3 separate regions of the Homo sapiens genome follow, and regions 1 and 3 are each reported to be linked to region 2. The links are microRNA targets in miRTarBase. Many come from high-throughput screens and were not tested one by one. Region 2 holds a microRNA gene; each other region holds the end of a gene's coding sequence.
What was found. Region 2 holds the annotated microRNA hsa-miR-4646-5p (ACUGGGAAGAGGAGCUGAGGGA, at 3,182-3,203, shown strand). A microRNA usually pairs through its seed, bases 2 to 8, with sites in the 3' UTR of a target mRNA and lowers its output. Matches are read on the target gene's strand: a 7mer-m8 pairs with bases 2 to 8, a 7mer-A1 pairs with bases 2 to 7 and ends in A, and an 8mer does both.

Region 1 (7,282 bases), not on the chromosome of region 2:
AGACCATAAATCAACACCATCTGTAATTGAGGTTTGCTCAAGGTATCTTTGCATGCTATAGCATTCATTGAAATATCTGTGAGGTAGGTTAGAACCAAATTTAACAGTTACTTCTCCAACTAGCCTTCTCATTTGTTCTCCAACTTGGGAATGATTCTATCATTAGACACACCCTGGGGCCAGATTTTACAAGTGGCACTATCATAACAGTGTGCCAGCTTAGGACCTGAGTTCACCACATTCCTTTCTGAGCCTACTCTGATGATTTGCCTTGGACTGGCCTTGTCCAAGCTCACCTTGACATCTGCCTTGTTCAGTGCTCAGTAGGCAGTTGTTGTTTAGAAAGTCTTTGTAAGTAACTATTTTAAAGTCACCATTTTACAGATGGACAAAGTGAAATACAGAACACAAAATGTGATTGATGTCATAAAGCAAATCAATGCTCCCAAATGCAATTTGCCATTCGCTCTCCTGTAAATATGTGAAATTGGTGACTTAATGTTCTTACTGTAAAAATGCCCAAAGAAAGAGAATAGAAGAAGAGTAACAGAGTTGGGGGAGAGCTACCACTGGAATGGAAGGAGCGAGGGAGGAAAATAGGAAAGGAGGAAGGAGTATTGCGAGAACATAAAACCTTACTACAGTGGCCCTGAATCATGGAGCTGCAACACACCTGGAGCACTTATAAATTCTTTTGAGAAATGCCAGTGTGACATACGCCTCGCAAGCCAGCAATTCATGAACTCGATGCAGTAGTTGAAACCAAAGGGGTAATGGCCACAGCTGTCAGGATCCAGATGCTCTGGGGCTCGGCCCTGCCACTTTGTCCCAGCATTCATGCGAAGGAATGCTGTGAACTGGGCATATCACCACTGTTCACCCTGGCCTGCTTCCAACAGCACCGGCTGCATCTGGCCTGGAAGATGGCCATGGCTGGCGGCCCTATGTTCCCCATAAGGTTGGGCACTGGGCTGCAGCCAGGCTGCGAGTGCTGGACCTACATCCAGCACACTCTCCGTCCAACCTCATCTGCCTGTCTACCCCAGAACCCCCAAGGAAGCTTGGCCTTTCCTGGCACACAGAATCCTCCTGAGAACTGGCGTCTTTCTGCAGTCAACAGAAAAGATGGAATGAAAACCACACAGATGAAAAGTCATGTCATTTATTAATAATTTCTTTTTTTTTTCTTCTATAAATTGGAAGGAAAAAGTCTTTGGTGACACTCTCTATAAAACAATCTATCTTGGATGGCGAAACCCAGACATAAAGTTACACAGGTCAGTGAAGTAAATCAATATCTATGGCTTTGTATTTTCTCACACGCGCTCTCTCACACATACTTGAGGGCTTAATTACGCTAAGTCATTAATACTCTATAACAAATGGGAAAAACACTTCAGAAAAGACCTGTGGTGACACTACAAAAACATTGGCAACATATTAGAAAACTCTGTCCCAAGTGTACATCGTATACAAAATAAGGTATACTTTTGTTTTTTGCGTTACAATTTGCCACCTAAAATAGTTCCAGTTTTTGATGTCTTTCTTTCTGCCCCTCAACATATCCTATACATATTGTTCTCTCAAAATAAGTACACAAGGTTCATTACATGGTAACCAGGTCATTTGCATAGCCCTAGTTTTAGTAATAGTTACAACCGAAAGGACAGGGATGTATTCCTGTAGGAGAAGAACAGAAAACTATTGCAGAAATCAAATGGCCTGAGGCCTAAAAGGCAAATCATTACAAAACCAGAGTGACTGAAAGGCTAGCCTGACTTGATTTTAAACAAGGGTGAGACTGTGCTATCCTGAGGGCTCAGCTTTCTCAAGGTTTGCCTTCTTCTCCTAGTTGCTGGGCCATGTTAAGTTCCAATTCTGGGTAGCTCACTGAGGTTCCTGATATAAAATGTATTGGAACTCTAGACCAGTGACAACTACAATCCCTACTAGGTAAAACTCATGGAGACAAAAGCCTTTGATTTTTGGAAAGGGCAAAAAGGGGAGAGATGGTTTTGAGGAGTCAAATCCATCATCACAATTATGGTGTAAATAACAGCTTTTTTATCCAGAGGTTCTGTACAGCATTATTGAACTGATGGGAGAGACCACTATCTTAGGGTACTTAATCCCCCAAGCTTTTTTTTTTTTTTAAAGAAAAAAAAAAGGGGGGCCAGGCGCAGTGGCTTACACCTGTAATCTCAGCACTTTGGGAGGCAGAGGCAGGTGGATCACCTGAGGTCAGGAGTTTGAGACCAGCCTGGCCAACATAGCAAAACCCTGTCTCTAATAAATATACAAAAATTAGCCCAGTGTGGTAGCACATGCCTGTAATCCCAACTACTAAGCAGGGTGAGGCAGGAGAATTGCTTGAACCGGGGAGGCGGAGGTTGCAGTGACTGAGCTGAGATCACACCAATGCATTCCAGCCTGGGTGACAGGGCAAGACTCTGTCTCAAAGAAAAAAAAAAGACTTGGTGTCAAAGGATAAACTAATCTCTTTATGCTGAAGTTCTTATACCAAGTGAGACAAGTTTAGCACAGTTTGATATTAATGCTTATTTGCTGAGAACTCAACTCAAAACAACTTTGTCCCTGTAAGCATGCCTGAGAAAATGAGGCTGATAGTGAAAGAAATTTCTTGGTTAAATCTGGCCAAGAATGACAAAACCAACTGAAAGGTTCTTGTCCATAGTCGCTGTAAAGGGGAACTAGGTAAATGAATTCAGCAACTGCGGTCCTGATGTACTGGCTGCATGTTGATTATATTCACAAGTAAGAGGCAGGAGCATTTTTATTTGAGAGTTCATGGCAATAACTGCTACTTTTAAATACTGGAGATCTCAAGAGACCCAAGGGAACACAAGACACTTCCAGGTCTGGGAAGTTTGCTTGGCTTTTGCATCCATAATTCAGCCTTGTCCAGCAAGAATCTCATTCAGATTCCAACCTAGTAAGGCTGTCTTCCCCCTGATCCTGCCCTTTAAACAGGTTTGTTCTTAAATCAAGTGCCCTGTTTTTTTTTTTTTTAATTAAAAAAAATAGTATATAGGCCTATTCACATTCATTCATCTCACCCCTGATTAAAGTTCAGTAACCTTTATGAAAGGCCACCAGCATAATACTCTTTCAAGTCACCAGGTATTTGAGAACCACCAAAATAAAGGCTAACATAGCCTACTGTAATGAAAACCAAAAGTCATTCTAAAAGGGAAATTGAAGGATGCAACCGGATTGATCCTTCTTTGAGCACCATTTGTCACAAGAAGAAATTAAACTGTAATGCACATAAGATTCCAGTAACAAGCTTTCCCTTTTTTTTTGAAGCATCTATCTGAAAGTGTGTTGATACGACCAGGTAGGCCCACCTAGCTATGCTATCTTTTGTGGTATGACTATCGTGATTATTTCATGGATTTTTCTCTACAGTCTCAATTTTGAGCCATTTTGCTAGCTTCAACAAAGGTGATATGTATTAATGTATTTGTAAGCTTTGATATTTATAACACTTTCATATAAATAAATACACAGCCAGCTTTTAAAAAATTACTTTTAAGATCCTGTGTCTTAATGTGGAGCTGGGAAAAGATGCTGTGTGGAAATCCATAAGTGGCTGAGTCCTCTTTGGAATTTCTGCAAGCAATTCATTACGTGGTTGGCACTGTACTCTCAGCCCTTGGCTTCTCTCCAATGCAGCACATGTTAGCCCACTTAGGGACCCCTAGTTATCATTAAAGTTGACCAGGAGATAATTCCTGACACCCTACAGAGATGGCTATGATTTGTCAACTTGTTGCAATGCAATACAACTCTTTCCTAACTGAATTAAAATTACATATTACTGTCGAGCTTCACTGATTTGTTAAGCATTGTTCTATTCCCAGCCTTATATTCCAAATGGGAGAAGAACACGCTAGCTCACATCCCAAAGAGATTTGCTCAGAGAATGACATAAAATGAAACTGTGGAGATTTAAAGTGGATGAAAGGTGTGTTATATCCTGTTCTTATTTATAATTACCATTTTTCTTCACATAACACATGTTGTTTGTGGAGGATATGTGTTGTGAGCTTGGTGACAGGTCAATCTGGCAAAGCAGGTCCTTGAATCCACTTGTGTGACTGACTGGTACAATTAGGGACATTGCTTTGCAAGCCAATATGACCACCTAAGTTTCAAGTTGGTTTTGGGGTCATTGAACAAAATATCGCATTTATTTTTTGGTAAAGGAGAAACAAGAATAATTTGCCAATCCTGAAAAAAATAATTTAAATACAAATTCACAAAGGCCAAATGAATAAAGATTAACTGCTAATCTTTTAACTTGCTGAGAAGTGCAGCTTAAATGACATGAAACCTGTAAGACCAAACATTTTATAGAAAAGACACAAGTGCAAGCACCATGGACCTAAGAATTATTTTTCAACAAATGCCTAAGAGATAATCACATCTACTTAGGGGAAAATGTCACATGTTTGAGAATGGACTATGGATGGGTCCAATTAGATGAGAGAGGTATTTAGGGAGCTGTTCTGAGTCATGAGGCTGAGGAGAAAATCCTCTCTTTAATTGAATTTCACTGTCTACGCACCTCTCAAAACACCATCTGGATATGTGGGCTCTACTCCTTGTTCTGCAGCTAGGTAGCCTGTTGAGTCACTTCTCTGGACTTCCACAAACACTTTCACTCCTGTTTACAGCACCATCCCCGTGCTATCATTACAAGCTCCTCTTCCTCTCCCAGATGTCTACAAAGAAAGGATGAGGTAAAGTCCAATGGACTTACGGTTTCCACTGACCTAAGATGGCCACTTGAAATTATCAGAACAAAATTCTCTGATGAACTTTTCTTCTAAAACAAAACTGAAAATAAATGGAAAAGAAATATGAAATGTATGAGAGTTTGAGGGAGGGACTCTAAAGTGCTTATTGTTTATTCAGCATAATACATGGTCAAACTCAATAATGTCTTTCTCTTCCCTGTTTTCTCTGGCCTCTTCCAAGTAGAAGAAAGCATTTAATATCAGAAGTCTCCATTTTTCATAACAGAGTTAGGGATATGTTTTTTTTTTCAGTTTATACTTGGAGTTTAACAATAATCATAAGCCCAAGATAGCATTTTCAGGGATAGAAATGTTCTTTTTAACAAGAAGCACAACTAAACTTTTCCACAGATTTAAAAATTAAAAGTAAATGAAACTATATTCACATTTGTTGTTGATTATTTTGTTTGCCAGATTCTTGCTCAAAACAATGTTTGACCAAAAATGGCATTAGGGTCCCAATGGCGAGACATCTCCTCAGTTACTTTGCAGCAATCCTCTTGTTCATTGGTGTGAATTTCTACCTTATTACCCCTTTTTCTTTCTCAAAAGAGAAACTCTGAAACTTGAGATTCTCACAAACATTAAAGAGTTCATCTTGTAAATAATCTGTTCTCCCCAATATACTCATTATTCCTTGGCTTCTAAACCAAAGCCTCTTCCCAGTGCTACGCAGACTTAGGTCAATGGTTGAATCTATAACCGTGCCCCCAACCCCTGCAAGTATTGGGTTACTGTTGTGGGTCTGTATTTCCATCTCACTAACATGCTGGTGGGTTATCTGGATAGTTCTTTGTGCAAACTGAACATTTCTTAATTATACTAGTGTTTTCTTGGTACTAATTCCCCCCACCCCCCCAATGAAAAACGATTATCATATATATCTATCTCAAACATAGAGATTTCAGTTAGAACTGCCTACCTGGAAGTCGTAATACTTTCTTTCATGCAGCGACATTTTAGAGATAAAAGTTCAAGTGGATTTGAAGATTCGAAGTGGAAAACAATTTGCACTGGCAAAGTTGAATAATGAAGTTACAACTTATGCTCAGTTATTTCTTGATAATGGGTAGAGTGACTTATTGTGTTTTCCACGAAGTTTGAGCTTTTGAAACTGCAGGGCACCCTACATGGCCATGACAATGATGTCTGTGGGAAAAGGAATAGCAGCTTTGAAATATTCACAACCAACACAATTTTGATTAAACAAAGAACTCTGGTTTTTAATAGTTTTGATCATTAAAAAAGTTTAAACCTGCATAGCAATCATTTCAAAAATAATTATTTAATGTTCCATAATTAAACTGTACACAACCTAGTCTTGGGACACAGAAGCCAGTGAGGTGAGTTTGGAGCAGTCTGGTGCAGTCCCAGGAGCCAGGAGTTGAGTTCTCATTGGCCTTTTTTTTTTTGTCATTCTGCTCATCTAAGTTTTTGGATAGTTGGCACAATCTGGCTCTGCTGATGAGTGGATCTGCACTGGGAAGAGAGAGCAGCTTGACCCCCATCCCTTCTTGCTTCCCCTCCCCCACTCAGCCGGATTCCTCAAAGTCGCTCAATGTCTCGGTATTTCTTCCTCAAAATAGAGACCTGGTCTTTAAAGAGGACGGGGTCGAGCCTCATCTGAGAGTGGATCAGCGGCATGTAGCCAAACCAGCTGGCAAACGTATTCATGCAGCTCTGTCGCTGGGCAAAGTGGTCAGGGTCAGCCCAACGGGAAGCCCGAGAAGTCTAGGGAGAAGGAGAGAAACAAGGATAATGATGAGAGAAGTGCAAGGTGAGATGGAAACATTGCAGAAAATGGAGTCAGGCAAATGAGCAAGCAGCAAAGCTTGGGGTCTGGCCCGGCCACCAAGTCTCACCATCTATGCACCTGCTGAAAATGCAATCGCTGATATTGGTTTTTCCCAAGGTATGCTACGTTCCTCAGTGTTAAAAACACAAAAACAAAGATTCATGTTGACTTTAATTCTCTAAAATTTATTGACTAATTCTCTGGTCAGTCCACGACTTAGCAACTGAAACTCGACTACTACAGTGACTCAATCTAAAACCTCTCTTTGCACTTGGGACCAAGTACTAAGATTAAAGATGTGTTTCTGCTTTCAAAGAGTTTTCTAAATCCTTCCTGTTTATGTAGTTGATTTAGAAATACCCACCAACTTTTAGAAGTCTATCTTTCTCTCTATCCATCACTTCCTTCCTTCTACTATCTCTTTACCTTTATAAGGGTCCTACTAAATCCTTTGTTAAAAATTCACATATATAGTTGAAGAAGAACAAAATAGTGCCTTTTACATGTCACTCAAGGCTAGTGTTACGCAGCATCTAAAACTCCGTTTTCTCTTCTGTAGCCTCCCCATTGACGTGACTCCATGAGGATGAGAAGGTGAGATTCAGTGGTATATAGAGCATGTTGCTGTATGACTAACTTTATACTAAAATCTCAAAATTCTGTT
Region 2 (7,778 bases):
TAGCTGGGACTACAGGTGGGCACCACCACACCCTGCTAGGTCTTTTTTTTTTCCCCCTTGGTATTTTGTGTAGAGATGGGGTCTCACTATGTTGCCTGGGCTGGCTTGGAACTCCAGGGCGCAAGCAATCCTCTCTCAGCCACCCCAAGTGTTGGAATTACAGGCATGAGCCATGGCCTGGAACTCCTGGACGCAAGCAATCATCCCTCGGCCACCCAAAGTGTTGGAATTACAGGCGTGAGCCACCGCGCTGGGCCAGTTTACCTTTATTTATTTATTTAGAGACAGAGTCTTGCTCTGTCACCAAGGCTGAAGTGCAGTGGGAAGATCTCGGCTCACTGCAACCTCTGCCTCCCGCGTTCAAGCGATTCTCGCGTCTCGGCCTCCCGAGTAGCTGGGATTACAGGCGCGCACCACCCATGCCAGGCTAATTTTTGTATTTTTAGTAGAGATGGGGTTTCACCATGTTGGCCAGGCTGGTCTCGAACTCCTGGCCTCAAGTGATCCCCCCGCCTCGGCCTCCCAAAGTGCTAGGACTACAGGCGTGAGCCACTGCGCCGGGCCGGGCCAGTTTGCCTTTTCAATAACTTTTTATAGTTTTCTTCATAAAACCTTGCATTTCTTGTACTAGATACATTCCTAGACACCTTATGTTTTCGGTTACTCTTATCAAGTACTCCTAATCTCACCCCTCGTTTCCGCTGTCGCTCTAGAGTCTGCCAATAATGAGACAGAAAAAAATTATTGAACCATGCCCGGTAATTTTCTGATTCTCCGCGTTCTAGTGGTCTTCCACTAGTTTCGGACCACTGCTGTACCCGTAGCTCCAACTGCGCGAAACTCTTCTCAGGAAGCACTGAAAATGTCGCAACTCGCCCGGAGGCGGAGCCGGTACGGGCTGACGTCAAGGGCACACAACACCTCAGAGGCAGGGAGGGCGGGGCCGGCAGGGGGACCTGCTGCTGGAAGAGCAGCGGCCCGAGCCGGGGCCATGGCGAAGCTGCTGAGCTGCGTCCTAGGCCCCCGGCTCTACAAAATCTACCGGGAGAGGGACTCTGAAAGGGCCCCGGCCAGCGTCCCTGAGACGCCAACGGCAGTCACTGCCCCCCATTCCAGCTCCTGGGTGAGTCGAGTTCCTCCCCACCGAAGAACGTGGTACAGTCCAAACCCTTTACGGCCTTTTGCTCCCCAGAAGTGCCCATAATGGGAAATAAGGGGAGCCTGCTTGTCAAGCCAGTTATCCGCAAAATCTGCGCTCTGTGTGCTTCCTGAGTTAAAGTCACGCCTACGGACTGGCCGCCTCCTTTCTTTTTCGCTCTTTACCGCTTTCTCATTCCGACTGCCACTCTTTGTTCTTTCCTCTCCGCGTCCCCCCGACCCTGTGTGTCGTGGTTCGTGCCGGTCCCAGTTGAGTCTTGAGTCCCGGGAAGAGACCCTGCGCGGACTGGGGAGCCGTTGAATTTTGCTGTCAGACTCCCAGTTTCCTCTTCTTCAGTGCCTCTTCATGCCTCCCCCGGCTCTGTTTTTATCTTCCCTTTACCCTCGCCTTGAATTTCAGAATGACTTTTACAGATCCTGTATCCGTCGGTCCTCCCCTCAACCCCCGCCCAACCTAGCCTGGAGACCCGAGTCATTGTATTCTGGAGAGCTGGCGGGTGGTGGTAGGCTGTTCTAAATATTCTCTTCCTTTTTATCAGTTGTCTCATTGTGTTACTGTCTCCTACAAACTGCCCGCTCCTACCCACATTCTCTTCTTAGTCAACTACTCTTATTTCTGATGCTTTTCTTTCCTTCTTAGATTGTCTAGGTGTCTTTTCTTTCTTCTCAAACTAACCCTTCTCCCCACATGCACGCGCCTGCAATCCATTTGAAACTAGGCTGTGGAAAAGGAGCAAAAATCGTCCAATGCTGCTTTCACTTTTGCTTCCAAATCCAGCTCCCTGTGTTTGTTCCCATGGTCAGGGGTGGGAAATTAGGTTCAGAGTGAGGGTGAGGAAGAGGAGTTTCTGTGGGGGCCAGGGATGTTTCAAGAGAGATAGTCAACGAGACTAGAACCAGAGGACACACAGCAGGGCTTCTGAAAGGGAAGGGAAAGGACCTGCCAGTGGGCAGGGTCCTTAAGGAGGCCATCTGTTTTGGCAGGATACGTACTATCAGCCCCGTGCCCTGGAGAAACATGCTGACAGCATCCTGGCACTGGTATGTCTACCCTGGCATCTGGGACTCTGCATCTTTCAGACCCACCTGTCCTCTTGAACTTAGCCCTCCCTAACTTGGGAGCAACAGTGCCCTGGGGTTGGGGGATGCCCTGGGCTCTGCAGCAGACCTCTCCAACACAGACACACAGGCACACTCTAAATGTGCATACTTGGCACTCCCCTTTGGTATGTAGCACTGCTTTCTCTGGGGGCAACCTGAGCCGTAAGGAAAACATGTTTACTCTTGGGACCATCTGCAGGTGCTAAGTCCTGCAGTTCCCCAGTGACCTGTCCTCCCTGGCAACTAACCTCTTTGGCTGCAGGGACAGCTGTTCTTTCTGGCACAGTTCCTGTGGTGACGTTTGCGCATCTCTTGGGGACCAGGCCAGGGGCTGTCCTGAGCAGGGCCAATTGAAAAGGCTTGATTAACTTGAGTAGACAGAGAGACTGCCTTTAAATGTGATGGAATTATGTCTGGAGATGGAAGACATAATTCTTCCATAATTCCAGAGGAAGAAAATAGAGCCTGTACCAAATTTTCCCAGCCTCCATTACATTGACACACTACTTTTCAACAAATACTGAGCACCTACTGTATTCATGGTGTCATACACCAAATATGATATGATATCCCTCAGGTTGTCCATCTTGCTCAGAGTGTATAGTATATGCCTGGAATGGCAGGTGTGTGTGTGTGTGTGTATTGATTGCCTGTCCCTGTCTCTCTGCTGCAGGCTTCAGTATTCTGGTCCATCTCTTATTACTCCTCTCCCTTCGCCTTCTTCTACTTGTACAGGAAAGGTCAGTGTGGTTTCAAAGGTGGTGGGGTAGCAAATGGGCAGGTTGTTGGCAGATGAGCCAGCTCCCTAAAGAGGAGAGGGGACCTGTGAAGATGGCTTGGCTTCCCTCTTCCATCAGGCATCTTCTTCCTCTTAGGGTATGGCTGTTCCAAACAGGGAGTGTGGGGTGGAGGTTGGGGCTGAACTGGGAAGAGGAGCTGAGGGACATTGCGGAGAGGGTCTCACATTGTCCCTCTCCCTTCCCAGGTTACTTGAGTTTGTCCAAAGTGGTGCCGTTTTCTCACTATGCTGGGACATTGCTGCTACTTCTGGCAGGTGTGGCCTGCCTCCGAGGTAGGTGGAGAGGAAACCTGGTTTGAATCTTATCTGTCACTGTCACTGGTTAAAAATTAAGTACCTTGTGCAAATACATTTTAGTGATGGGCCTCCGAGAGGGAATCATTGAGAATGGTTTAAGGCATGATCTTTTCCTTAAAAGACTTGGGTTATAAATATGAAAAAATAACTGAAAAGTAACAAAAAGGTTTGCTTTTTTTTTTTTAAGAGATAGGGTCTCACCATGTTGTCCAGGCTGGTCTCAAACTCCTGAACTCAAAGTGATCCTCCCACCTCAGCCTCCCGAAGTACTGGGATTATAGATGTGAGCCACTATGCCTGGCTGCTTTTATCTAGAAAAGATGCATATACCCTACAACAATTCTATATATGTATACATACTAGGAAAACTCCTGCACATGTATAAACAATATAGATGTACAAGAATACAGCATACAACATTGTTTGTAATAATCCTAAGCTGGAAACAACTCCAGTGGCTACAAATAGTAGGATGGATAAAATATGTTCTGTGTGGCCGGGTGTGGTGGCTCATGCCTGTAATCCCAGCACTTTGGGAGGCAGAGGCCAGTGGATCACGAGGTCAGGAATTTGAGACCAGCCTGACCAACATGGTAAAACCCCGTCTCTACCAAAAATACAAAAATTAGCTGGGCATGGTGGCACGTGCCTGTAATCCCAGCTACTTAGGAGGCTGAGGCAGGAGAATAGCTTGAACCTGGGAGGCAAAGGTTGCAGTGAGACGAGATTGCGCTACTGCACTCCATCCTGGGCAACAGAGCAAGACTCCGTCTCAAAAAAAAAAAAAAGTTCCATGCAATAGCCATGCAAGAGAACACTATATAGCAATGCAAATGAACAAACTGTAGCTACGCTCAACAACGCAGATGAAGCCAGGTGCAGTGGCTCATGCCTGTAATCCTAGCAGTTTGGTAGGCTGAAGCAGGCAGATCACCAGAGGTCAGGAGTTCAAGACCAGTCTGTCCAACATGGTGAAACCCCGTCTCTACTAAACATACAAAAAAAAATTAGCCAGGTATGGTGGTGAGCACCTGTAATCCCAGCTATTCGGGAGGCTGAGGCAGTAGAATTGCTTGAATCCAAGAGGCAGAGGTTGCAGTGAGCCAAGATTGCGCTACTGTACTGCATCCTGGGCAACAGAGCAAGGCTCCATCTCAGAAAAAATAAAATACAAAAAATTAACTGGGCATGGTGGCACATGCCTATAGTCTTAACTGCTTGGGAGGCTAAGGCATGAGAACTGCTTGAACCTGGGAGGCAGAGGTTGCAGTGAGCCAAGATAGCACCACTGCACTCCAGTCTGGGTGACAGAGCGAGACTCTGTCTCCAGATAAACAAAAGCAATGCAGATGAATTTCTCAAATGTTGTGTTAAATAGAAGAAGCTAACCACAAAATAATGTATGCAGTATGTTTTCATTTATATAAAATTCAAAAGGGATGTGCATGTTTGAGGTAGAACACCGAAGACAACAAGGGCATGGTTTTCTTTTTTTTTTTTTTTTTTTTTGAGACGGAGTCTCGCTCTGTCCCCCAGGCTGGAGTGCAGTGGCGCGATCTCGGCTCACTGCAAGCTCCGCCTCCCGGGTTCACGCCATTCTCCTGCTTCAGCCTCCCGAGTAGCTGGGACTACAGGCGCCCACCACCACACCCGGCTAGGTTTTTTTGTATTTTTTAGTAGAGATGGGGTTTCACCGTGTTAGCCAGGATGGTCTCAATCTCCTGACCTCGTGATCCACCCGCCTCGGCCTCCCAAAGTGCTGAGATTACAGGCTTGAGCCACCGCGCCCAGCAAGGGCATGGTTTTCTCAAAAGTTAGGAGAGTGATTACCTGGGGTGGGGGAGAACAGAGTGGGGGAGAGCCCTGCTGAGAGGTGGCTGTGTTCTCTTTGTTGACCTAGGTGATAGTCACATGAATGTTTGCTTTGTATTTTTTAAACTGAATATATGTTTTATGTACATATGTTGTATCTCGCAATTTAAAAAAATAAAGAGGACAGATCACCTACCCCTAGTGGGTACATAAGATGACAACCAGGTGATGGGCGATGCTTCAACATGGGGGTGGTGGGGTCAGGGCTGGATGGTCGCAGTTGGGTCCAGGACCTTCTGCCTGAGGTGTTCTGCCCCCTGATCTCTGCAGGGCTGGGCTCTCTCCTCAGAGAGGCCTTCCCTGACCACCCTGTCTAAAAGTAGCTCCCACTGCTCAGTTTTGTCTTAGTTTTTTATTTTATTTATTTTTAATTTAGAAAAAATACAGAAAAAATTAGCTGTGCATGGTGGCGGGCGCTTGTAATCCCAGCTATTTGGGAGGCTGTGGCAGGAGAATCACTTGAACCCGGGAGGCGGAGGTTGCAGTGAGCCGAGAGCACATCATTGCACTCCCGCCTGGGCAACAAGAGCAAAACTGTCTCAAAAAAAAGAAAAAAGAAAAAATACAGAAAAGTCCAGAGAACAAAATATAAAAGCCTTTTTAAATTTTTTGATGTATAGTTTTGTGATTTTTTTTTTATATATAGTTTTGTGATATTTGCTTTAAATGCTTTCTGTCAACAAAATACTAAAGCACCACAGTTAGGGTTGGAGTTCCCATTGGAATCCTTTCAGTCCCATCTTCCTCTTTCCTCAGAAGTAATAATTGTCATTTGGTGTGGGTTTTTTTTTTTTCTGGCACATACTTTTATGAAACATATACCTCAGTTCCTCAAGTCTAAGCTGCCATCAATTGTAAAATGAATTCTAATTTCAGAGTTTTCAAGGGTTAAAAAATATACATTTTAGAATCTATGAAATATGGTATCTATAAGCAGTATGTATTATTTTGCACATTTTACATTTTTGGCATAAATGTTGTACAAATCATTCTGCAGCACACATCATTCTCTCATCATATCGTTTTGGGGGAATACCATTGATGACACATAAAGTTCTGGTTCATTCTTGTTGTATTTTCTCTGTAGCACTTATCCCTCTCTGAAATGTTGTTTATTGTCTTCTCCTGGCTGTACCTAACCCCAACCAGAATGCCAGCTCTCTGAGAGCCAGGAGCTGTGTATCTCATTTCCTGCTGAGTCTCCCGTGTGTAGTACGGTGCCTGTCTGACACACGACACCTGCCAAGTCAGTGAGGAGAGAAGTTAGGGTTTGAGGTGGCTCAGCAGTGAAAGGAGAGTGGATGCAATCACTGACTGTGTAAGTGAAAAGAGAGAGGAGAGAGAGTCAGCACTGAGAGTTGCTTCTGCTTCAGAAAGGAAAGCAGAAAGGAGGCAGGAGAGGAACTGTTCAGGAACTGGAAGGAGTCAAGGATGGGCCCAGGAAGCAGAGGCAGGAAGAATCTTGAGGGACAGGGAGAATGCTGAGTAGTACAGTTGAAGAGAATGAGGATAGAAGAGTCAGGAATTCAGTGAGGAAGTAATTATGGGCAGGAGTCGGAGACTCTGAAGCCAGATGGCAAGGGGCTAGAATATACAGAAAAGAGGCAGAAAGCAAACATTGGAGAAGAATGGCAGTGAAAAATAGAGAAATTTGATATTCGCAAGGGAGAATAGTATTATATGATAGTGTTTAATAGTGTCATTTAATAGGTTATATGACAGTGTTTAAAGACTGAGGAAGAGGAACATTCTGGAAGATGGTAGGTTAAGGATTGTCTATAAAGACACAAACTGCAGAAGCTAGGGAGAAGAAGCGTCCTGTAGCCAGTTGCTGGATTTGGAGGAAGGGGGTTGGCTCACATCTATTTCTCCGCATCCTATGCCCTCAGTTCCTTTTTCTTTCACTTTTTCTTACAGGGCCTTCTTCTAGCCCATCTCCAATTCTTTTCCTAAAACCTAGGCTTTCTGCTTCCCAGTTTTCCTAGCACTGTTTCCTGTCCTTTTTCTACCAGGCATTGGCCGCTGGACCAACCCCCAGTACCGGCAGTTCATCACCATCTTGGAAGCAACACATCGGAACCAGTCTTCAGAAAACAAGGTGAGAGGCCCTAGGAAAAGTGCCACACAGGCACCCAATAGCAGCTTTCTCAGTTGTCCCTCAGAGCACCAGACACTGGCTTCTGCAGGAAGAGGAGGTGTGTTTTACCACCCACCACACTGGGTGTTTGCTTGCACATTGCTGTATCCCTTCTCACCTCCATTAGTGAACTGTCCACCTGAGGAATTTTTCCTCCCTACCACTTCTAATGGAATATTCTGCTAGAACAATCTTCCCCCTCCCTCACCTGTAAGAACTGGCTAAACTAGAAACATTCCACAATGTTTCTTTTTTCTTTTTCTTTTTTTTTTTTTGAGATGGAGTTTCGCTCTTGTTGCCCAGGCTGGAGTGCAATGGCACGATCTCGGCTCACTGCACTCTCCACCTCCCAGGTTCAAGTGATTCTCCTGTCTCAGCTTCCTGAGTAGCTAGGATTACAGGCACGCACCACCC
Region 3 (7,778 bases), not on the chromosome of region 2:
GGATGCTGCTAAACATCCTACACTGCACAGGACAGCCCCACAGCAAGAATTTTTCCACCCACAATGTCAACAGTGCTGAGGCTGAGATGTCCATGGTGACCTGCATTAGGCTAAAGTTTTCAAAGGCAGTCTTTCTAACTCAGTACTTGATCCCAGCAGCTAGCTGGGAGCCTGGCACATTAGAAGGCACTCAGCACGTGCTCACTGAATATAAATGAGCCAAGCCTAATTTCTTTTTTAGCCAGTTTGCCTGAGTCATTTCATAGGCACCAACAAGCACTCTTAATAATGCACACTGCAAAGGACTGATTTTTTCCTTCACTTGGACATCACTGATCCTACTTCTGAGCTGCAGGTATCTCTGTGCAGAAGGGGTTGCCTTAGAAAGAGGTTGCATTTCTTCTCATCTCTCTGCCTCATCTCCCAATGTAAGTCTGCATATGTAGGGTTTGCATCTGCTCTTGGGAAGGAAATGAAAGTAAAGGGTAGATATTTTTCCCTTTGTTTATATCTAATATTTTGGTGTACAATGATGATCTATATGGAATGTTGTTCTTAGCAGTGACAATCATTAGATTTATTTTTAAGGATATACAGCACTGAACGTGTGTTAGAGGGAGGGGTGATGTAGGAGAATGGAGTTTACAACATCATTAACATTTTTAATGGAATTTGGTCATTTTTTAGTTTATATAAAAGCTATTTATCCTTTTGAGGAGAGACAGTTCTGGATGGCCCTAGAAACTTGTCTCCCAGCCGGTCTGCATTAGCCCGTCAGAGGATATAGGCCAAGTCCCTGAGTGCCCTTTTTATCCCTGTTTCTAACAAAGCCAGTTTTGGAACCAAGGAACCTACATTATTTCATAGTTTTTGTAGGTGGCCCCTGTCCCCAGCCAATATGTAGAGTATTATGGGGGGTAGGGAGCGGTGGTATGTGCAGTCTATCTATGCTGAGGCCAGACTTATCCCTCAGTGAAGTGATGAGTTGAAGGGATTGTGTATGTGCTCAACTTCTTCTCTGGAGGTCTTTCCTCAATAAACCCTATTTCTTCTATGTACTGTGGCGCCCTTAGAAATTGACATGCAACCTATCTACCATATAGGGCAGCAGTCAACGGGAGCAGCTTTAGGAGTTGACCTAATTTGCATAATATTTATTATATTTAAAAGTATCTGTGTTATAAATTATTTAGTTGAAACCATGCCAGAGGGAAGGAACAAGAGTAAATATTCAGGTGTATGTGTATGTAGAGGGGAATGAAATGTGCATGTATATATAATCATATTTTTTTGCTCTGCTTCTGTAGGCTTTTTTAAAAAAGAGAATAAGGTTTTCAGTCTGCTGTCAGATTCTTAGGATGTTTTTAAGGGTATTATTCATTACATTACACAGTAAACTTTTTATGAAGACTCTTGAGGGTAATTTATTTCTGATCAAGGACTCAAGAGTAATTATGATTTTTCTTACTGGTTTGTTTTTATCTTAACGACAATGTGTGTATAACTACATTTTATTTAAGAATTGCTTGTTAGAGTGTTTAAAACCAAATTCGTTGCCCACCCATATACAGCAAGGATGTAGGTGTCCAGGGTAGCCACAGTCCTCACTCCTCATTGTACTCCTGTCTTCATTTTCCCTCTATCTTTTCATCTACTTCAAATTTATCATCATTGTAGTCTGCATCACTTATAAACCTCCAGAAATGTTTTGTTTTTTTTTTTTTGGAAAAAAGGTAAATGTCTTATCATAAGCCACCAAAAACCTATTTTACCAGCTTCTTTTTTCTTCCCTTTCCAGATTGAGATGCTACCAGATGGGCTGTTTCAGTGCAAAAAGCTGCAGTGTTTACTTTTGGGGAAAAATAGCTTGATGAATTTGTCCCCTCATGTGGGTGAGCTGTCAAACCTTACTCATCTGGAGCTCATTGGTAATTACCTGGAAACACTTCCTCCTGAACTAGAAGGATGTCAGTCCCTAAAACGGAACTGTCTGATTGTTGAGGAGAACTTGCTCAATACTCTTCCTCTCCCTGTAACAGAACGTTTACAGACGTGCTTAGACAAATGTTGACTTAAAGAAAAGAGACCCGTGTTTCAAAATCATTTTTAAAAGTATGCTCGGCCGGGCGTGGTGGCTCATGCCTATAATCCCAGCACTTTGGGAGGCCAAGATGGGCGGATTGCTTGAGGTCAGGAGTTCGAGACCAGTCTGGCCAACCTGGTGAAACCCCATCTCTGCTAAAACTACAAAAAAATTAGCCAGGCGTGGTGGCGTGCGCCTGTAATCCCAGCTACTTGGGAGGCTGACGCAGGGGAATTGCTTGAACCAGGGAGGTGGAGGTTGCAGTGAGCCGAGATTGTGCCACTGTACACCAGCCTGGGTGACAGAGCAAGACTCTTATCTCAAAAAAAAAAAAAAAATGCTCCAGGGCTTTAAATGAGAAGTAAAATTTTCTAAGTTAATAAAGATGAAGAATGGGTGACTATTATGATGAACCATAACTAAATGTCTTATTAAAGCAACTGAGTGTCTAGCCCTAAATTAACCAGGTAAAAACTGTTAACACTAACCTGAAGTTTTGTGAATAACTGTTCTTTAACTTATTGAGATGTTGCAAGAAATGCACATCCAGGGTGGACTGGGAGCTATGAAATGACTAAATTCCTCCTTGCAGTGTTTACCTTCAAGATTGTATAGGTATTCTCTCCTCTTCTTCCCCCAGTCCCCATTACTTATTTGCACACTTGTTTTAACTGACTTCCTGTTTTGATATTTATCACCAAGACCATAAACTCATCAATATGAATTTTCTTGATGTATACTCACGACTGTCTTTGATTTATGTTCCTAAATTTTTTTAGATAGGGTATGTTGTGCTTGGCAGAATTCTTTTTTGGCTTAATTTTTACTTCCTTTCCCAGCTTGCTTGAGTCTTCCTTAACCTGGTTTTCTCTTAACACCAATGATGAACCCTGAGAAAATGCCTGCATTTGGCCTTTGCCTAGAACAGGAGCTGAGTATTTAAGATGTATTATCCTCGGGGCATCCTGAAAATTAATGTATTCCCTAAAATTTCTTCTTGTCTATCATCAAGGCCTTTTTTTATTTGTTAAGAATTTTTATATTAAATGTAAAACATATAAATATTTTCTATTGTATAATCTTGGATTCAACATCTGTGAGGATCATTTTTGTAAGATACATAGAATTTGTGCATTTCTTTATGAACTTACTGTTAGTGTTCTTGGTTTCGGCTGTTTATGACTCATGTTTATGTACATTCTGCTCCAAAATGTTTTTGTACTCTGCAACTAATTACTTTTGGATAACAAAAGCCTTGTGTTTAATGCCCTAAAGTATTTGGGGGTTTCCTTGTGAGAGGGTGGCCGAATCATCTACCTCTCTCTTCCATAGTTGCTGTGCAATCGTACGGGTAAAATTCTTAATTACTTACAAAAACTGTGATAGAGGGGAGAGGTACAGATTTGGTTTTTAAATTGATTTTAAAATACTTTATAGAAATTTAGTAAGAGTTAAAGCAAAAGACTTTTTTTCCCTCCATCTATGTAATCTCTAGCTATGATTATAATGTAAAACAGCCTCTATTCAGTGTCTAAAATGAGTTCTCAAAACCCACAAAGAAATAGATCCATTTAACTGAAATTCATCTCATGCCTTTATCTAACTCTTCTGGAAAATACATTTTGCTCCTTTTTATAAAGAGCTTTGTGCTTGGCCTTTTATTATGCATATTTTTAATGAATAAAATCAACTGACTCATTTTTGGGAAATGTACATCTTTAATATGTTTTTCCCTAAGGGTCTAGGCATTATGATGCCACCTCTTCATTTTGGATATAACTATGAAGAAATCTATTAACTGCACCTACACAAAACTGGAAAACACTATAGGTAAACAGTACTGTGTATATGGAATTGTGGTGCGTGGTATGTGTTTTCTCTTGCTTTGTTCCAGAAAGATGAAAGTGAGTCTTTAAAGCATAGCAAATAGAGCTTCCCCTCACCTGCCACACACTCCTGCACTAAAGTTCAAAGAAAAGAATTATTCAAATCAAATGAAATTTGAATAATATTAGCTATCAGGAATATAGGACACCAAACACACTGCCTCACACATTATTGTTTATTCTGAACGGAAAGGAACAGTGTAAAAATAAACTACTTACCAAAACTTGCCTTTAGTCAGAACATTCAGCTCTCAGGGAAGCAGGTATAACTGATGAAACTTCTAGGACTTCAGAAAACAGATTCTAATTATATCCATGTTTTTCGTTGTTATTTTCATTTTTTAAAGTGTGAGTTGATGTTTATTTTAGTGTTTCACAATAGAATTATCATGTATACTGATTCCAGTGTGGCATGTGATTAAGTTTTGGACATGAATATGCCAAAAGTGCTTAAATGTTTTTGGCCACATAACTAGCTAGAATTTCAAAACAAAATTCAGATTTGCTACCATTCACCTGACGAACTTCTCCATGGCTCGTCACTGGTTTGGTTCAACTGCAGAAGTCATTGGCTAAATTTTCCTTATCACCTACGTAAATTTCTAGAAGAATTTACTAGCAGGATTAATAATGAATATTATAAACTGCTTTCCACACACTAGGGTATAATTATTGGTGCAATCTATGTTGTTCTTGATGCCATGGTTTTACATCTTTTAATTTAAACCTTATACACCAGTGTTTAGGTCGCTTTTGAGACAAGGTAGCCCTGATGCAAGGAAAAATGAGGCTACTACTTCACATAAAAAATAGGGTGTTAATACCACCTTTACTGTACTGTTGGAGCAGATCTTTATTTTACAAGTGTTCATATTCACATAAGAGAATTTTAAATGAAGAAAATTAAGTTTGTTAAATTATAATTATGAGACTTTCGTTGGCATTTGATTTCAAGAATACATATGCATTTTCCAAAAAATAAATGTGGAGGTTATTCAGAACAAAATTCATAGCTTACGGTAGTAATGGCATGGATTAATTTTATTTGCATGCACACACAGACACACATACTTCATATATGCAAATTATAGCATTAGTTTTTGATATATCTAGTGGTTTTTTTTTCAAAATTGCAGGAGGTTGTAGATTAAATTAAGTATGATAGCACGTTTTTTAATTCATTAATCATGAAGTGCTCTGTTCCCTAAGTTATGACATTTAGAAGAAATCACATGCTCAACCTTAATCTGAGAACCTAAGTGTTTTTGAGCATTCCAGTAAAGGAGTAGTGTTCTTTTCCTAACTTACATCAGGGTACATCTGTGTGGCACACAGATACTATCTTTTCATTCTTCACTCCCAGTCTTAATTTCTTTCCCCTGTATGTCACTGTATTTTATGTCACTTCACATTGTGTTAAACAGGGTAAATAGAGATCCTCAGTATCTCAGTGCTGTGGCATAGCTCCAATAGGTGTGCTGTGGTGCACTGCAGTGATGTATTTGCATAACATTGTTTGATAGTGAAAAATTTTTTTTCGGTTCAAGTGTTTTGTGATTAAAATTTTATGTTTAATTAAAATATTGCATAATATTGATGGGTTCAAAAACCATTAAAATAATCAAACAATTATTCTGTGCCCTTAACATTATTTTCTTGTGTTTTCAATAAAATTTTCTTTTCATCTTTCCATCTTCACATTCTCTTAGCATCATCCTATGCACATAAGGTATGTTGTTTTCCTTCTCCACTCACCTACCGCACTAAATTTGATCAGCAATTGTACAGTAACAGAATATATTTGTGCCAGAAGATTTGCAATGATATTTGAGCATGTATTTATTTAGGAGGAAGCCAGTGCCTGTAATTATGTCTCATTGAGTAGTTTTACTTTGCCCATCCTGCAGTATTTAGAGCTGATCTGTACCCAAAGCAGGACAATGTAACTGTAGATCTGCTTTGTTTTCAGTAACTGTACATTGCATCAGAATCTGTTTATTTCTATCTGGAAACAGACAGAATGGTGGGGGAGGGAAGGAGTTATTTTGCATCCTAGTTTGTATTATGAAGTCATCATATATATATTTGAAATAGTATAAGCTAATTACTGTTGCAGAATGCCCTCGATATAATTATTTCTTTTCAGCTGGATGTGAAAAGCTGAAGCAGTGAAAACCTGCAGTCTTATTTCACTGGTTTCCTTCTGTTTCTTGTCCATCACTTCTGTATCCACAGGGAGCTATCTACTACATACCTTTGGTAACAGGCTACATTCTCTTCAGATTTTTTATATGAATAATTTCATCAGCACTAAAGCATTAACATAGAATAATGAGCCAAAGTACTGAGTCGAGATGGCTTTCAGTTGAGTTTAATTTCATATTTAACTTTTGCATTTAACTTGTATAATACACTACTGCTGAGAAAAACAATTATGAATGCCTTCTGCATGTTGTACATTATCTCTAACAGAGATGGTGCAATTTTAAGAATACAAAGGGGTATAGAGTTAGAATGGATGTGTTCGTGCATATATATGTTGTATTTAAATATTAATGTTTACAAGAAGATTTTTTTTAAATTCTTCAAATACTTCACTTAGTGAAATAATGGGCCAATCTGGAATAGAGACATTTTATTTGGTTAGTGCAAGAGTGAAAGCTAGCATTTGTTAACCTTCACATATTTATCTGTGTACAATTGTTTTTGCTTCTGGTAATGAATTATTAGAAAATGGAAGATTTTGTTCAATGTTTTTGGCCCTCAGGTTTACTGTGTAAATCTGCATTTTTGGTGGTAAATCCCTTTGCCACAGATTCAGTAGCTTTTGGTAAACTTCACTGTTTTTAAAGTACCTTTTGTGTAAAATAAAGATCCAATTTTTATAACAAATGGCAAATAAAAACAGTAAATGCTGGAAGAAGTTGACTGTACTAATTTTAACCAAGTTCCAAAAGTGATTCCCTCTCTCTTCTCATGCTTCCTTGTACTGTCGTACTGTTATTCACCAAATAATAGATTTCAGATTTACATGTGAATCTTACAACAATGGTATGAGTTTTCAAAATATGCTACCATGGCCACAAAATAACAAGCACCTGAAAAGAGCTGCGTGGATCCTAGAATACATGGGTTGCGGGGGGTAGTAGATCTCTCATGAGTGGGCCCGTCTTTCCTTGGAATTCATCAGGGACAGATGTTCATAGAACGCCTCATCTCTCTCCTTTCTTCTTGGTGCCTGTTTCTCCATTTCCTGTTTAACACTGAATTGTGAACCAGGTAAGCAAAAGCTAAAGAACTGCAAGACAGGCAATTCTGAGATGGTTTAGTCAAAGGTGAAAAAATTGAATTACTGGATAAAATAAGTACATGATAGTTTGAACTTTTCGATAGAAAACAGCCTCTCTCGGTCTCTTACATGCACACACACACACAGTTTCAGGACCACATTAGAAGGCTGATAGCCAGAATTTTGCTGGAATATATATAGACTGAATCAGATTATGAAGGAAAGTAACTTAGTTGTTCCCTGGCCATATTCTCTGAAAATGCAGTAAGTCATTCAAGAAAGGCTTCCCCCATCTCTAAGTGGTTCAGGAATGGGAAGTCTATTGAAATGAAGTGAGTGCCTGCCTCCAGGCATTAGCAGCCTTTCAGGGACTGCTAGGTGCTTTGAGATGCTGAAGTTATATGCTAACAGTCTGCCCAGCAGTGACATGGCCCCCTAAACACAGCAATAACTGTGGCTTCATGTACTTCAGCATTCACTTCCACATTTCAAAATGGCTTTTTGAAAAAGTGGTAAAGGG

Region 1: the mRNA of EXT1 is a reported target of hsa-miR-4646-5p. Seed matches in the 3' UTR shown: 7mer-m8 at 6,303-6,309, 7mer-m8 at 3,579-3,585 and 8mer at 2,879-2,886.
Region 3: the mRNA of LRRC8B is a reported target of hsa-miR-4646-5p. Seed matches in the 3' UTR shown: 7mer-m8 at 2,916-2,922.

The regions. Positions count from the first base shown.
Region 1 is chr8:117,793,344-117,800,625 of GRCh38, forward strand. It overlaps EXT1 (exostosin glycosyltransferase 1), which reads right to left. Exons shown (of 11, transcript NM_000127.3): 11 at 1,147-6,554. The coding sequence ends at 6,369. Among named protein-coding and RNA genes, the nearest start is that of SNORD168, 120 kb to the right of the region's middle.
Region 2 is chr6:31,696,495-31,704,272 of GRCh38, reverse strand. It overlaps MIR4646 (microRNA 4646), which reads left to right and starts at 3,182; the gene lies at 3,182-3,244. ABHD16A (abhydrolase domain containing 16A, phospholipase) reads left to right here and starts at 949. Exons shown (of 20, transcript NM_021160.3): 1 at 949-1,123; 2 at 2,143-2,199; 3 at 2,933-2,999; 4 at 3,245-3,331; 5 at 7,240-7,325. The coding sequence starts at 992.
Region 3 is chr1:89,590,973-89,598,750 of GRCh38, forward strand. LRRC8B (leucine rich repeat containing 8 VRAC subunit B) reads left to right here. Exons shown (of 6, transcript NM_001369817.2): 6 at 1,799-6,889. The coding sequence ends at 2,071. Among named protein-coding and RNA genes, the nearest start is that of LRRC8C-DT, 38 kb to the right of the region's middle. RefSeq lists an enhancer at 7,231-7,747.